2 separate regions of the Homo sapiens genome follow, and region 2 is linked to region 1. Evidence: fine-mapped expression QTL. Tissue or cell type: blood mononuclear cells. Region 1 holds a variant in brackets; the other region holds the start of a gene. All regions are shown on one strand. Distances are from middle to middle.

The links. PIP is the estimated chance that this variant, and not a neighbour inherited with it, causes the effect. A credible set is the group of variants that fine-mapping cannot tell apart.
Region 2: it holds the start of TTC23-AS1, and the variant in region 1 is the best candidate, but not a certain one, in a credible set for the expression of TTC23-AS1 in blood mononuclear cells (TOPMed, PIP 0.53).

What each region holds. Positions count from the first base shown.
Region 1 is chr15:99,096,915-99,099,822 of GRCh38, forward strand. The region is part of intron 2 of SYNM-AS1 (SYNM antisense RNA 1); the gene reads right to left. Among named protein-coding and RNA genes, the nearest start is that of SYNM, 6.7 kb to the right of the region's middle. The variant G/A (reference allele first, on the strand shown) is at 1,832.
Region 2 is chr15:99,137,568-99,140,475 of GRCh38, forward strand. TTC23-AS1 (TTC23 antisense RNA 1) reads left to right here and starts at 1,750. Exons shown (of 2, transcript NR_186223.1): 1 at 1,750-2,908. It overlaps TTC23 (tetratricopeptide repeat domain 23), which reads right to left. Exons shown (of 14, transcript NM_001288615.3): 13 at 1,750-1,832; 14 at 1-560. The coding sequence ends at 443. It also overlaps a transcript of SYNM not described here.

The DNA of each region.
Region 1 (2,908 bases):
GTGATGCTGCTGTTGCTCATCCAGATACTAGACTTTGAGAGCCACTGGCTACAGGCCTAGCAGAGGGCGGATGGCAGCCCATAAGTCTCATAAAAAAGGTGAGTATAATTACTGTTATGAGCTGCAAAGTTGGAATGGCCATGGGGGTGGGGAGTGAACTAAGGGTTCTACAGACTCAGGGATCTGAGGGATCTGTGAATCATAGAACACGGTGTTCCTAGGGGAAAGATAAATGGGCTGCCGGCAGAAACATCCCCAAGTATATATATAATCAAAAACACTTCTAAGCCAAGTTATGATCCAGTTTTCTGACCCTGAGCCACCAGAACACACTGGCTGAAAGGACCCGACAACCTCTATGGCAAGTGAGAGCCTTGGTCCTTCCCCAGAGCGACTGCAGCCAGTTAGGACGCGAGCACTCATTTCTTTTCAGGATGGTTGGTTCCTACTGTGGCGTCCAAATTGATGCGGATACCCAGGGACCCATAGCACCACCATGGCCCCCGTGTTAGAGTAGGGATCTATGGGGGTCATGTCATCCACAGAGCCCTGCCCAAGACACAGCGGGGTCAGAACAGCAGTCTGGGCTGCAGCGACACATCCGAGGATCACTGGCATGTTACTGTATTTAAAGCCATGAGATTGGATTGGAGCAGCAGCAGGTAGATAGAGAAGAGGTGAGTGGCTAAACGACTGGTGGGTGGCAATTAGGGAGAAGCAGGCACTTGTGACAGCGTTGGGGGAAGAGAGGAACTTCCCCAAGCTCTCTGGCCTCCCCAGGCCCCGGGTCTATGAGGAAGACGGCTGTGTCTTTCTCCTTTCTGTGTTCCCAGGGCCCAGCCCAGCACCAGGCACACAGAGGGGACTCAAAAACTAGCTTTCGAGTTACCCTATCATGAACACCACCAACAAACTCCACAGAAAATGTGCTTCTAAGGGCAGGGAGAGCAAATATGCTGTTCTTTGACGGCAAATTATTCTTTTTTTAGTTCTTCAGTGGAAGTGAGAAGTCTTGTCCCTGTTGGGAAGATTAAACAGGGGATGTTTCTTTGTCACTTGGGGCTCTTCCCAAGTTCATTTGTAATGATTATGACATGACTTTCCAAATTAAGAGAGGGAAGTTGTGCAGCTTAGATTACTGCATTTTTTTTATGTGACAAATGCTATTTTTGTACCTTTTGAAAAGGCAGCCTATACCCCAACAAACACCTGCTGTGCTCCTATGAAACAGTGACAAATGATCTACCCACCCAAAATAGCCAGAAGAGCTGTGACAGAGTGGGGACACTGTGGGCTCTGAGCAAGAGTGGCTGGATTCGGATTTTGGAGTGAGACGGAGCATGAAGACGCTGTGTCCTGAGGCCTTTACATTCTCATCTTACTTATCCCTTGTAGCGATCCTATGAGGGAGGGGTTATCCTTACTTTACAGATGAGGAAACTGAGTCTGGGAGGCTCAAGGACCAGCTCGTCCCTGTCCTCCTGCTCCCTAGACCCAGCTGGTCTCAGACCCTGCGGAGCTGCCATCATCTGCATCTGTGCCCTGACTCTTCAGCCTCTCTCCCTGGCCTTCTGGAGACAGACCTCTGACCGGTGGGCTCCATGTGATTCTGGGCTCCAGGACCTCTCCCATGAAGATGACCAGCACTTGCTGAGTGCGGTGTGCCAAGTCTTGTGCAACACGTCTCACACAGCGTAACGGGCAGTGTGGCAAAGTGGGTAAGGTAAGGGTTCAAATCCTGGTTCTGCCACTTTTTACTTGCACGGGCTCGGGCAAGCTGACCACCCTGTGGCTCAGCCTCCACATCATTCACCTCGAGCTGATGGTACCC[G/A]CTGCACGGGCTGCTGTACTGCTTGTGAGTTCATCCACATGAAGAGCTCAGAACAGTGCCTGGCGTGGCAAGACTATACAAGGACTAACTCTGATGGTGGGAGCCAGGAGGTTTCCTTGTGGTCCTTGCCTGGCAGCATCTTCCTCACCTGGGAATGGACTAATGCTTAGCCCACTCCAGGCTACTGACTCTGAAACTCTGTGTGTGGGGCCCAGGGATCTGCATTTTAACAAGCTCTCCATTGAGGCCAATGGACGTGAAAGCTTAGTCTTTCTAACACCTCTATAAGAAGGTCTATTTTGTTCTCATTATTACTATTATATGGATAAGGAGGTGGGCTCAGAGGGGTTGTCATGCCTAAGCTTATGCTGGTACTAAGTGCCAGGATGCAAAGTGGGTCAGTCCACTCCACACCACTGTGCCTGGCCCAGCCCTTCCCGCCAGCTCGACGCACTTCCCTTTCCCACTGGCTTCATTTCCTACCTGGCCAAGCCTGTCGGGGGCAAGCATGCCTCTCGGTCCACAAACTTAGGGAGGCAGGGAATAAGCACAGGGTGATGAAAACTCAATCCCCATCCATTCAAGGGGTTAGAGACCTGATCCCCTTCCCTAGATTGCACCAGAACTGTTGAGGACTTACACAGTGCTAAGGCACCAGGGTGGGGGGCCCACCTGGTCCTCATGCCACCCATCAGTGCTGGCATCCACTAGCCTTCCAAGAGAGCCCTAGATCTTCATCCCTACAGGCAGAGGCTGGGACAGTGGACCACTTTGGATAGTTAACCAGCTTGTTCACTGCACAAACATATCCGGATGGGGTGATCAGTGGGACTGAAATCCCACCTGTGCTGTCCTTGCTGAGCTATGGAAGTGGGTGCAGGACAGCCTCCACCCTGAGGCAGGGCATCTCTTCCTTAGCACCAAGGAACCATCCACGGACCAGGTCATGCACCCAGTGGGCTCATCCATCTTCCCACAAAGGGTGCCTTTTCCCAATTTGCACAAAGGAACCTTAGAGACGGATGTGGCCCTGCTGGTGTGGCCCCATGCTGGTGGAGTGGCTCCCACAGGTCTGCG
Region 2 (2,908 bases), 41 kb after region 1:
TTCTCATGTTATTCTCAATCCCTATTAGCCTCCTATAAGAAAGGACTTCCTGAAGTTCACTGTCCAGATCTAACTCCACACCTATGCAAGGAGCTGTGTGTACAAGCAGATGCCGGGCTGACTCCTGCACAGGGCGCACTGAACTGTTGAAGAGAAGTTTTTCAGCCACAGTAGTGCTGATGGGTAAAAATTCTTGTTGGCAAGAAAAACCACTTAGGTGATAGAAAACTGCTTTATAGCATATATCACCCTGAAGGGCATCCACTGTCAAAATGTGGCCCACGGGAGGCTTATGGTCTCACTGTTGCATGTTGGGGCCAACAGTTGGCCTTGGAAATCTGTATCCTGACTGTTGAATTCCATTTTCTAGGCGGAGGTGATTTGTACAGCACCCTAAATGACAGTGCCCAGGAATGTCCTAGGCTTTTTCAGGGTGGGGGCCTCAGTCTGCTGTTGTGCCGGGCCGGGCCTTCCCCAGCAGGGTGTCCTGAGGGATGCTGGTGCAGAAGGCCACTTTGGCTTTTGATGCCTGCCTTGGCTTCGAAGCAACCTTGGGGGCCCTGCAGACAAGCAGAGGGTGGGGTGAGTGTGGTGCCCCTCAGCCCCCCACACCGTTCCCATCCAGCCTTTGCTGCCCAGCAGGTGCCCAGACCCATTTATGAGAAGACTTGGTAGGGGCTATAAATGAGAGGAGAATTGTAGCACAGAGCATAAAACATGAGATGTTTTCCTCCCATCTTTTATTTTTTTAATTTTTTTTTTTTCAGACAGAGTCTCACTCTGTCACCCAGGCTGGAGTGCAGTGGCCCCATCTCGGCTCCCTGCAACTTCCGCCTCCCAGGTTCAAGCAACTCTCATGCCTCAGTCTCCCGAGTAGCCAGGATTACAGGCACATGCCACCACGCCCAGCTAATTTTTGTATTTTTAGTAGAGACGAAGTTTTGCCATGTTGGCCAGTCTGGTCTCAAACTCCTGGCCTCAAGTGATCCACCGCCTCGGCCTCCCAAGGTGCTGGGATTATAGGCATGAGTCACCTCGCCTGGCCCCTCCCATCTTTTAAAATCACCTGTGACCATCCTCACTGAGCTGAGGCCCTCAACCCTTAGCTGGCTTGGTGAGCAGGACATGGGTGAGGAGGATGGTCAGGGTTGCACTGGAGGCCTCCCTGGCTCGCCTTCCCTGCCCTCAAAGGGGATGGCGCCCTGCTGGCCAGGTTGTGTCTGCTCCGGGCTGTGGCCCTGTTTCCCTGAGCAGACTCAGGCAGCCCTGGGGCTGCTCTCTGCGGACCAGGCTCTGTGAGGTAGGCCCTCCACGGCAGAGCGCTGGGCCTCTGCTCGGGCTGAGAAAGGACGTAGGGGCCAGCCTTTAAGGTCAGTCAGTGAACCTTCCGGCTCCAGTCCTGACGGGCATCCGAGGGCAGAGGGAAGCCGGAAGCAGGGCTGCAGGAGGCCACAGGGATTCCCGGGGCCCTCCCCCTGCAGCAGGTGCCTTAGCCTGCAGGGGCTGGTCTGCAGGAAGACAACATCCAGCATATATTTCTGACTTAAAGGATGAATTATTTTTAAATACCTGGGCAAGGAAGATCTTTTACAACTCGGGTTTCAAAGGAACTTGTCCTTTATGCAAGTTATGGGAAGTCAGCAAAACATTCCAGAGAAGGTTACACAGAACCTTCTAGAACCAGCTTTCTCTTGAGATTCTGAATGGAAAGGGAATGAGATAGAGAAAGTGTGAGGGACGCCAACTCACGTGGACAGCATGCCCATGGCCTGCTGGGTGGCCAGAGTCCTTTTGTCCTGCGGTCCATATAAGAGGGTCTGGATCTGGAGACACTGTAGAACACCAAGCAGCTATCATGAGGCTATGGAAGTGTCGCTGAGAGCAGGAAACTAAGGTCTCCCTTGAATGAGAGAAAGATGACCTCATTCTTAGGCCCTGCTGTGATGGAATTAGCATGCTCCTGGGATGTCTCCTAGTGACTGACCTTTGGTTTGGATGTTCTGAGGGATCTAGGCAAAAGTGAACAGTTTTAGCACTATTTCACAAAACTCTCTGTGACTATCTGTATGCAAAAAATAGATTTAAAAGTAGTATTTTTAAAAATAAAGGCAAGAACCTTGGTACTGACCAGAGGATGGGCTCCAGTTTCTATTTTTAAATGTGGCCCTTGTTATAGCCTGGAAAAGATTTAAAAAAATAGTTTTGTTTTTTTTGTAAACACATACTCTACTTTTATTAATATATAGGCTGTCTATACTCTTGACTACACAGCAATGTCTTAGTTATTAGGAACCAAATATTCAGCTTATGGACTACCCAGGGCTGGCTTTGGCTTGATTTCTCCCTTCTGCTTACTTTAAGTCTTGCCATTTGATTGCTTGTAGTAGGCTAGGGCAAATCAAGGAGAGGAGAAAGATTAAAGTTGTGCCCAAAATGGCCAAAATAATTTTGAGAAAGAATGAGGTGGAGAGGTGGAGGAACTTGCTTTACTGAATGCCAAAGACCCTTTTATTTTTTTAAATAAAGTAATTAAGACAGCATGTTTGTCACCCGGGGTAGACAAAAAGACCAGTGGAACAGGGCAGAGAGCCCAAGCCTTGACAGATGACAGAAATGGCCTTGCGGGATTGGTGAGGAAGAGGTGGGCTAGTCAATAAATGGGTACTGGGACCGCTGGTTTTCCAAATGGAAGAAAATGGATCACTACCCCAAATCAAACACAAATATTAAGCTCAAGAAAGATTTGAAGGACTAAGTGTGAAATGCAAAACTTGGAGCTTTTAGATGAAAATACTGGAAAATATATATATATATATTTTTTGATGGAGTCTCACTCTGTCGCCCAGACTGGAGTGCAAGTGGGGTGATTTTGGCTCACTGCAACCTCCACCTCCTGGGTTCATGTGAT